2 separate regions of the Homo sapiens genome follow, and region 2 is linked to region 1. A link means that fine-mapping ties the variant in region 1 to the expression of a gene that starts in the linked region. Tissue or cell type: whole blood. Region 1 holds a variant in brackets; the other region holds the start of a gene. All regions are shown on one strand. Distances are between the middles of the regions.

Evidence for each region.
Region 2: it holds the start of GNB4, and the variant in region 1 is fine-mapped to the expression of GNB4 in whole blood (INTERVAL, PIP 0.99).

The regions. Positions count from the first base shown.
Region 1 is chr3:179,470,678-179,476,059 of GRCh38, forward strand. It overlaps a transcript of GNB4 not described here. Among named protein-coding and RNA genes, the nearest start is that of GNB4, 22 kb to the left of the region's middle. The variant T/G (reference allele first, on the strand shown) is at 2,314.
Region 2 is chr3:179,449,107-179,454,488 of GRCh38, forward strand. GNB4 (G protein subunit beta 4) reads right to left here and starts at 2,364. Exons shown (of 10, transcript NM_021629.4): 1 at 2,240-2,364. It also overlaps the pseudogene RPL29P34. RefSeq lists silencers at 1,935-2,344, 2,385-2,534.

The DNA of each region.
Region 1 (5,382 bases):
GGGACTACAGGCACGTGCCACCGCTCCAGCTAATTTTTTGTAGTTTTAGTAGAGACGGGGTTTTATCGTGTTAGCCAGGATGGTCTCGATCACCGTGCCCGCAAGAAAATATTTTTATATAGCTGTACAGTGTGTCTGCGTTTTAAGCTAAGTGTTACTACAAAAGAGTCAAAAAGTTTAAAAATAATTTAAAAGTATACAAAGTAAAAAAGTTACAGTAGGCCGGGCGCCGTGGCTTACGCCTGTAATCCCAGCACTTTGGGAGACTGAGGAGGGCGGATCACGAGGTCAGGAGATTGAGACCATCCTGGCTAACATTGTGAAACCCCCTCTCTACCAAAAATACATAAAATTAGCCGGGCGTTGTGGTGGGTGCCTGTAGTCCCAGCTACTCGGCAGGCTGAGGCAGGAGAATGGAGTGAACCCAGGAGGCGGAGCTTGCAGTGAGTTGAGATCGCGCCACTGCACTCCAACCTGGGCAACAGAGCGAGACTCCGTCTCAAAAAAAAAAAAAAAAAAGTATCAGCAAGCTAAGCTTAATTTATTATTGAAATAAGAAATACTTTTATAAATTTAGCGTAGCCTAAGTGTATAGTGTTTATAAGTCTGTAGTAGTGCACAGTAATGTCCTAGGCTTTCACATTCACTCACCACTCACTGACTCACCCAGAGCAGAGCAACTTTCAGTCCCGCAAGCCCCATTCATGGTAAGTGCCTTATACATGTATACCATTTTTAAATATTTTATACTGTATTTTTATTGTACTTTTTCTATGTTTAGATACACACGTACTTACCATTATGTTATAATTGCCTACAGTATTTAGTACAGTGCCATGCAGTATAGGCTTGTAGCCTAGGAGCAATAGGCCATACCTTACAGCCTAGGTTGTACTAAGCTACTCCATCTAGGTTTGTGTAAGTACTTTCTATGATGTTTGCAAAATGACAAAATCATCTAAGGATGCATTTCTCAGAATGTATCCCTATCGTTAAGCAATGCATGAGTGTAATTAGAAGTTATTTTCTAGTCACCCATAGTTGACTTTTTGAGGTGAGTAGTATTCCTCTCATATAAAAGAGCTATGGGATGCGCATGTAAAAATATACTTTGAGGAGGCAAAATGGAGAGAACTTAGGTAGCAGAATTTTAAATTTTAAATAAAGTAGATATTTGGTTAGTACACCCTTTCTGCAAGACAAATTGTCAGTGTGTACTAAGAGCATTAAAACTCTTTGACTTAGATCCTAAAGATGCACACAATGATTAATGAATGAAAATTTTGTATGTACCAATTATTTATATTAGGGAAAATTTATAAATACAATAATTATATGATTAATTAAATTATGATATAGCCACATAATAGAGGCATAATCAGTCACAAATATTATTTTTTATTTGGGAAAAACTCACTAAACGTAAAGGTAAACTCACAAAATGAAAATGAAGTATGTGCCTTTCAAAGAGAGGTAAAGAAAAAAGTTTTAATGCCAATTTTATACAAAAACATGTATATAGCAATAATAACTGAAAAAATATACCAAAATATCAACATTAGTTTTTGCTCAGTTTCAAATTATGGATAAATTGGATTAATTTATAATTTTCAATATTCACCAAATTTTCTTATAATTAACACATATTTTTTCTTTTTCTTTTTCTTTCCTTTCCTTTCCTTTTCTTTCTTTCTTTTTTTTTTTTTTTTTAAGAGACAGGGTCTTGCTCTGTTGTCCAGGCTGGAATGCAGTGGTGTGATCTCAGCTCACTGCAGCCTCAACCTCCCAGGCTCAAATGATCCTCCCATCTCAGCCTCCTGAGCACCTGGGACTATAGGTGTGTGTCACTATACCTGGCAAGTTTTTTGTAGAGACAGGGTTCTGCCATTTTGCTAAGGCTGGTCTCAAACTCCTGGACTCAAGGGATCTGCCTGCACCAGCCTCCCAAAGTACTGGGATTACAGGCTTCAGTCACCACACCAGGCCATGAACAGCTATTATTTCTATTACTAAAAGAAAACGTTTAAGTAACACCAAAATATATAGTTGGTACTCCTTGATTATTGCTTCTGATTTTATGTCTTGAGTTGGAAAAGGGAGCATACTTTTGATGGAGCATTCTAACACTTTTTTCCTACTCACTGCCACTGATTTAAGTGACCCTCCAAGGACACCAAATTCACTCTTTGAAAATGACAAAAGTTGGCCGGGCGCGGTGGCTCACGCCTGTAATCCCAGCACTTTGGGAGGCCAAGGCGGGCAGATCACGAGGTTAGGAGATCGAGACCATCCTGGCTAACACAGTGAAACCCC[T/G]TCTCTACTAAAAATACAAAAAGTTAGCCAGCCATGGTGGCACACGCCTGTAGTCCCAGCTACTCGGGAGGCTGAGGCAGGAGAATCGCTTGAACCCAGGAGGTGGAGGTTGCAGTGAGCCGAGATCCTGCCACTGCACTCCAGCCTGGGCAACAGAGTGAGACTCTGTCTCAAAAAAAACTGAAAGAAAATGACAAAAGTCTGACTACAGACATCCCTTCCCTTATTCTTCTAGTAAATTCTAGCATACAATGGTAATTCTTTCCAAGGTCAAAAGCCCATTTCTCTTACTGAAGGAATTTTTTTTTAAACTTTTGATTTTGGAATAATTATAGATTCACAGGAAGTTGCAAAGATAATACAGAGCGGTCCTTTGTACCCTTCACCCAATTTCCTCCTGAAGCAACTTTTAATTATGAATTATTTCATTTATTTTATTTTATTTTTATTTAATTTTTTTTTAGAGACAAGGTCTCACTTTGTCACCCAGGCTGGAGTGCAGTTTCATGATAATAGCTCAATGAAGGCTTGACCTCCTGGGCTCAAGCAAACTTCCCACCTCAGCCTCCCAAAGTGCTGGGATTACAGGAATGAGCTACCATGTCTAGCCAATTTGTTTTTTCTCTTATAGTTGAGATTAGTGCTGGGAAGTGGTGTCAATTCTAAAGGCAAATCCAACAGACCGTTCTGTTTCTCTATTTTGAAAACACGGAAATAACTTTTTTCTAACTTCCCGTAGTTTACCCTGAGTCACAGATGTTTGAAAAGAAATTCCAGCCTGTTATATAAGTTCTACTGCAATATCAATATGTAAATGTAACCACTTGGTTGTAGTTTCGGTTCAAGAGTGCAATTGTGCTACACTTCTCTATTATATGAAATTACCCAGCACTGGCAATTACTGTCTTTGGCTTGGAGGGTATAAAGGATGAGAAGAAAGAGGGTAGAAAAGATGATTTTTGGTTGATATAAATTAAGACTTCTTCCCTGTCCTTTTTGATTTGTTTGGCTTCGTCAGTTTGCAACACTGAGGCTTAAAAAAGTAATAATTGGCCAGTCTGCATTGGCTCATGCCTGTAATCCCAACACTTTGGGAGGTCAAGGTGGGAGGATCACTCAAGCCCAGGAATTCAAGGCTTAGTGAGCTATGATTGTGCTACTGTACTCCACCCTAGGCGACAGAGTGAGACCTTGTCTCTAAAAGATAAATAATAATAATAATATTCAATTAAGTCACATATTCTTTTTTTTTTAGTTGGAGTCTTGCTCTGTCTCCCAGGCTAGAGTGCAGTAGCACGTCTCAGCTCACTGCAACCTCCTCCTCCCGGGTTCAAGCGATTCTCCTACCTCAGCCTCCTCAGTAGCTGGGACTACAGGCACACGCCACCATGCCTGGCTAATTATTGTATTTTTAGTAGAGATGAGGTTTTACCATGTTGGCCAGGCTGGTCTTGAACTCCTGCCCTTGAGTGATCTGCCTGCCTTGGCCTCCCAAAGTGCTGGGATTACAGGCAAGAGCCACTGCACCCAGCCAAGTCACAAATTCTTGATGATGAGATTTACACCTGATTTAAATAGAGAAAACAATACATTTTTTGCTAAGTTGCTAAAGTGAAAGCACTGCAGCACTGAAGTAGCAAGAGTCTACAGTTAAGTATCACATTAGAGTACTGTGACCTGGAGTCATGTTGCCCACAGCTGTCTTAGTCTGTTTTGTGTTGCTGTAACAGAATCCCAGACTGGGTCCTTTTTTTTTTTTTTTTTTTTTTTTGCTTTTTTTAGACAGGTTCTCAATATGTCATCCCCACTGGAGTGCAGTGATGTGATCACAGCTCACTGCAGCCTCAAACTCCAAGGCTCAAGTGATCCTTCCACCTTGCCCTCCCAAAGTGCTGGAATTACAGGCATGAGCCACTGTACTTGGTTCAAGACTGGGTACCGTATAAAGAAAAAAAATCGATTCCTTATCATTCTGGATGCTGGGAAGTTCAAGGTCGAGGGGGCCTGAATTTGGCAAAGGCCTTCAAGCTGTGTCATCCAATGGCAGGAGGTGGAAGGGCAAGCAAGGGTGAGAGCAAGAGACAGAGACAGAGAGGGCCAAACTCGCTTTATTTTATTTTTATTTTTATTATTTATTTATTTTTTTGGAGACAGAGTCTTGCTCTGTCCCAGGCTTGAGTGCAGTGGCACAATCTCAGCTCGCTGCAACCTCCACCTCCCGGGTTCAAGCAGTTCTCCAACTTCAGCCTCCCAAGTAGCTGGGACTACATGCACGTGCCACCATGCCTGGCTAATTTTTTGTATTTTTATAATTGCAGACAGGTTTCACCATGTTAGCCAGGAAAGTCTTGATCTCCTGACCTTGTGATCTGCCCGCCTCGGCCTCCCAAAGTGCTGGGATTACAGGCGTGAGCCACCACACCTGGCCCAAACTCGCTTTTTTATTTTCATTTTTATTTTATTTTATTTCATTTATTTTTTATTTGTTTATTTACTTTTTTGAGACAGAGTCTCAGTCTCTCACCAGGCTGGAATGCAATGGCGAGATCTCGGCTCACTGCAATCTCTGCCTCCTGGGTTCAAGTGATTCTCCTGCCTCAGCCTCCTGAGTAGCTGGGACTACAGGTGCATGCCACCACACCCGGCTAATTTTTTGTATTTTTAGTAAAGACAGGGTTTCACCATGTTGGCCAGGATGGTCTCAATCTCTTGACCTCGTGATCTGCCCGCCTCAGCCTCGCAAATTGCTGGGATTACAGGCATGAGCCACCATGCCTGGCCCTGAACTCGCTTTTCTAACAGTCTGCACAAGTGATAATGAACACACTCCTGCAATAATGACATTAACCCATTTATGAGGGCAGAGCCCTCATGGCCTAATCAACTGTTACTTGTCCCACCTCTTAATACTGTCACAGTGGCAATTACATTTCAACATGATTTTGGAGAGGACATCCAAACTGCCTCTGGTCCACCAAAACTCATACAATATACCTTCACTCCATCCCAATAGCCCCAAAAGGTTTTAACTTGTTCTAGTACCAGCTCAAAAGTTCAAAATCCAGAGTC
Region 2 (5,382 bases), 22 kb before region 1:
TAATTTGAGGGATATCAAAGGGTTCTCATATCCCAAAATTGACCGCAATCCTGTTTGTAACCTTCCAAATTAGTTATAACTCTATCTCTAGAGAACCCACATTAAAATGGAGTTACTGTTTTATCAAGATAATTAAGCCATCACTACCTATTAATATCAATAGGATACACTGTGCCCTGGCAAAAGGGAGGTTTTGAACTTGGAACAAGACATTTAACTAGGAGTAGAGTGGTGAGAAGAGAATGGCTGATGTGAGAAGCTGTATAAAAACATGGGACAGACAATAATGATCATGCTGGAAAAACAAACATGCTTCTGGCATGTCTTGGATATTTTACACACATGCTAATGAGTAATTGAGGGTCACTCCTCATGCCCTCGAACTAAGTTAATATGGCTCAGGGGAAAGAACATGGACTTTGGAAACAGAGGGGTCTTGCTTCGAATCCCAGTTGAGTTACCTAACACCTACATGACCACTGCCAAGTTACTTAAAACCTCACAGACAATTTCCTTACCTGTGGAAGTAGATAATGGTGTTACTGTGAGATATAAGTAGAATAACTTACAGCACTGCCCCAGCCCAGAAGAGATATTTTAATAAATAAGTCCATAACAGACGCAGATTAAAATAGTCAGCAAGGTAAAGAAACTGATGATACAGCCAGCTGACTTCAATAACATGCCTAAGAGAAATCACACCATCTCAGGCAGTATTTGGTAAGGCCAGAAGAATGTCCAACACTTAGTTCCAATTCTTAATTTTCAAATTGCCCCAGAGTCTATTTTTAAAGTGTAAAAGTATGTGCTGACATACTTACATGCCAATTGTTTAAAAGAAACAATTCTACAGGTTAACAAAGGCCAAAGACTCGGAATAACTTCCTAAATAATGTTTATGGGCCCACAAAGAGTTGAACCAACCTAAAATATCACAAGCTGTATCAATCAGTTTTATAAATGTATATACAGAGGGTTGACAACGTTCAATAAGATGATATTTTAAAAGTTTCTATTTCAGTTTCAAATTCATCTACAAACCAAAATGCAACATGGAAAATCTTAAAATGTCTTTAAGCCACATACTGAAATATACAGTAAATTTTCAGAGCCTAGGATCAGTAGTAAACCAAAAGCCCCAAACTGAAGAGTATTAAAATGAACAATGGCAGAGACTCGAAGCACACAATTTTGAATGCACCTAATCAGCCGTCCTCCTCTCCGACTAGAAATAACTTCCCTCCCATCTTAAATTAAGTAGCGTGTGTTCTGTCTCTGTCCTAGAAGATGTACTTAATGGTCATAAACTCTGTTTGCAACACTGAGACGGACTCATAATAAAAGTTCTAATCAACAATTAAATTTTGAACGTTTTAAGAAAACTTCCCGCTAAGCCACACGCCAAGCTACTTTGTCGGTGGCTGAGAGGGAGAAAGATGCATCCTTATCCTTTATGGAAAGAGAAAGGGAAGGAGTGGGAGAAAAGGGAACACAAGGAGACGAAAAATAACAAAGTATTGCTTGTATAAACAAATGAAAGCCTGGTTTCAAACTTTTGAAAATTCAACGTTCCCTTAGCGAATAGCAATACATATCAAAGTATATGGCAATCATCTGTGTTCTGAAGCAGAAAAAGGTGGAGAGAAAAGCAAAACACTTTTTATTGTACTGAACTCACAAGTATTCAAAATTCATCAATCCCCTCCCATCCCCAAACTCTGGACATTATATCATTTCCAAAATAAATCTGAAACAAAACCATTGGACTAATTTTGGACTCAGCGTAGAACTTTTATGAGTCTTCCAAGCACTCTCCACCCAACAGCCCTGCTGGGCAGTCCCGAATACCCGTTATTTTGGGGGCACGCACGGGCTCGTGCTCTGAGTTCCTGGAAGGAGGCCTCGGGGAGTGACGAGAAACCAGGGGGGTCTGCAGGACTTGGACCGCCGACCGTTCCTCGCTCCCCGGGGCGAGCGGTCTGGACCGCCCGGGAAGTGCCTGCGCCGGCGGTCGTGGGGCCAGTTCCCGCGTGGCAGCTGGGCGCGACACAGGCGCGCCCTCCTCGTCCCTCCCGGGCAGCGTCGGCCGCCCGAGCCCGGGGAGACCCGCCCCGCCCCGCGCCGTCACCCGGGCCCCGTTCCGCAGGGGTGGCTCGCGGCGCCCCACGTCCCTGCGAGAAGCCCGGGATCGCTTCGCGGGGCGCACCGACGAGCCGCCGCTCGCGAGCTCGCCGCCTACCTGGAGGGAGCTCAGGCCCGCGTCGACCGCGCGCTGCCGGTGTCCGCTGGGCGCTCAGCAGCCCCTGGAGCGCGGAGCCGGCGTGGAGAGCGCAGCTCACAGCCGAGACCAGAGCCGCCGGCCACACCCAGTCCCGCACCTCCCAGCAGCCAACTCCGCGGCGCGCCGGAGCCGGGGCGGGGACGTGGCTGGAGGCGCGAGGCGCGAGGCACGAGGCGCGCGGGCCCGGCGGGGACGTGCCGGGGACGCGCAGACCCTCGGAGCGCGCGCAGCCCGGGCGGGGGGCGAAGGGAGCGGGCGCCGCGCGCAGCTTCTGCTTCCTATTTTCTCTCTCGTTTCCTGCCAGAAGGAGAAGAAAAACATTCATTCCCGGGCAGTTTCGTTTTCTTGTTGGTGTGGCGCCGGGGCACGCTGCTAAGTAGCGCCCGTCTAAGTGGCGTGGCCAGTTTCCTTTCCGGCGCTGACAGGCGCCAGTTTGCTTGTTAGCAGGATCGAAGGGCAGAGCTAGAAGACCCCAAAGGCCCCATTTAGGTTTCCCATTCTGGAATTCTAAATGTCAGAAAGTAAACTGAAGCCCAGAGTTGCACAACCTTGCGTTGCAGTCCCCGCTCTTCCATCACTAGTTGTAGGACCGTGTACCGTCTCGGGCCTAAGTTTCGTCATCGCCAAAATAAAGATACTGATACCTGCCTCATAAAGGTGCTAAGCATATTAAATGAAGTGATGTTTGCACGAAGCCTGCCTCCAAATAAATGGCCAATACTTGGAAGTTATTGTTCCTATTGTCATTGATAAAACTGGAAGGCCTTCCAGATATCCCTGCCAAGTCGCTCTTCTCTGCATGAGTTAAACACCACATGCATCTCAATCGAGTTTTTTTTTTTTTCACATTTATCTGGGTGTTTTATGTTTAAAATGTCATAAAATAAATGCATCTATCCAATTTGCTTCCTCTGAAGTCAGTACCGCCTGGGAGCATTTTTCCTCTCCCCACCCCCATTTTTCTTCTGAGTTAATTCCAGTTTGACAGACTGTTGCTATAGCATTCCTTCTCTGACGTCAAACAATTTAAAGAAACAGCCCTGGGTAGCGAAAACTGCAGAGGAGTTCTTTGTGGAGTTTCTGTGCCGGAGAAATGTTCGAACAATATCATCAGATAACTTTAACAACCCCTCAGCCTTCCAATCCTCCTTCTGTAGCTGCTTCCCACTATCACCTGGAATAAATCTATTAGTCCCTTGAAAGAGGTGATGCCATGATAAACACACCCTGTTTGTGACTGTGGGGAAAATGTGACCGTTTTGTATAAAAGCCAGGCCGTGACAAAAATAGAAGCAGCTGTTTCTATTTTCTTTATCCACAGATAAAGAAACTGTGGATAATTTTTCCCCCAAAATTTTCATTTTTACTAATATTAGGAGCATTTTTCCATTAAGAAGAAAGAAATGCCAAATATTCTGCATATCAAAGTGTCAGAAGAGCTCGTTGGGACATGAGTGTTTTGCATCTGTAACTATTTATGTTTTAATGATTAAATCCTGAGTTTTATGATTGTCGTTTTTCGGAGGAAGCAAAGGGAAATTGTTAAAGAGTGCCTATTACGGACCATGCTCTCTGCTTTCTTATACTGTACTTAATCCTCATAATTACCTTGAAGTGTGAATTTTATCCCCATTTTACAGATAAGCAAACTGATGCCCTGGTAAGATTAATTTATCGGAGTCACGAAGGTATTGGTAGAGCCCTGCATGACATCAGATTGGATCAACTCCAAAGCCCACATTCTTTCTTTTTTTTGTTTGTTTTTTTGTTTTGAGACGGAGTCACTGTGCAGTGATGTGATGTCAGCTCACTGCAACCTCCACCTCCAGGATTCAAGCGATTCTCGTGTCTCAGCCTCCCAAGTCTGGGATTACAGGCACAAGCCACCACGCCCGGCTGATTTTTTGTATTTTTAGTAGACACGGGGTTTCACCGTGTTGACCAGGCTGGTCTCAATCTGCTGACCTCAGGTGATCCGCCCACCTCGGCCTCCCAAAGTGCTGGAATTACAGGCGTGAGCCACCGATCCCGGCCCCATATTCTTTCTTTAGATTCTTTTCTGCCTTGTTCCTGTGCACTAGCATTTACCAGATGTTATAAAGCTTTGAGAGCTGGTTGTTGGGTTAAGATTATTTGTTGAAAAACAAGTTGCTGGTATTTAGGAAAACACAGTGGGAAGCAATGAGATAGTCTATTCCAGAAAAGATGAGGGGAAATATAAATGAACAGCTCCTAAACATAAAATACAAAACCTGAAAAGATGTAACAAGAATTTGACTGTCTTTTAAAGAGTTTAAAAGAATGATATCGTCAATCTTCCTGAAAATTTAATGTAGACAAAGAAATTACTAGAAGAATAAAGTCCAAGTACAGAAAAAGGAAAGTTTAATTATTATCCAAACGAATCTACTTCCAAGAATATTGTATTTCTGTTTTGCCATACCTGCTCCATATTGTTCTGGAAAAAAAAAAAAAAACTTACTTGTTAAAGGACAAGCCTATACTGAAAATCTGAAAGTGGAGCTGATTAAAAGAATTTTGTCATCAGGAATGATTTCATAAGAGCACACTAATGCATCTAAGTGATCCAGCAATTCATGATTTTTCCAATGATAATGAAATCCACGAAGAACAAAAGAGAGAGACTGGGAAGGGAGGCAGAGAGAAAGGTGAAGGGGTATGCTATTAACATTTCTGATGCCTGCTGGTTTGTGTAGACAATTGTAGAGATGTATCCTACTTCTGAGGATTAAGCCCCATGATCTTTTGTTTGGGTGCCACTGGCTGATAATTAGATTTCTAACTCATTAGGCCCATGTTCTCAAATCCTACTCTATTAAGAGAGCATAGTGGGGTCCCTACTAGAGAACCTTTGAAGACAAAATCCTTGTCCGTTTCATCTTTGTGTCTGCCATAGTGTTTAACAGAGCACCTTGCATTTGCTAGGTACTCCACGAACAAATAAATGAGTGAATGCACTTGGCTGCTTGTTTTATGCAAATAACCTGCATACCTCACCCCATCCCACACGCTAGTCAGAATCATAGGAGAGGAGAAAGTGGTCATTGCTTTTCTAGGAGTTTAGTTACAGTTTCTTTTGC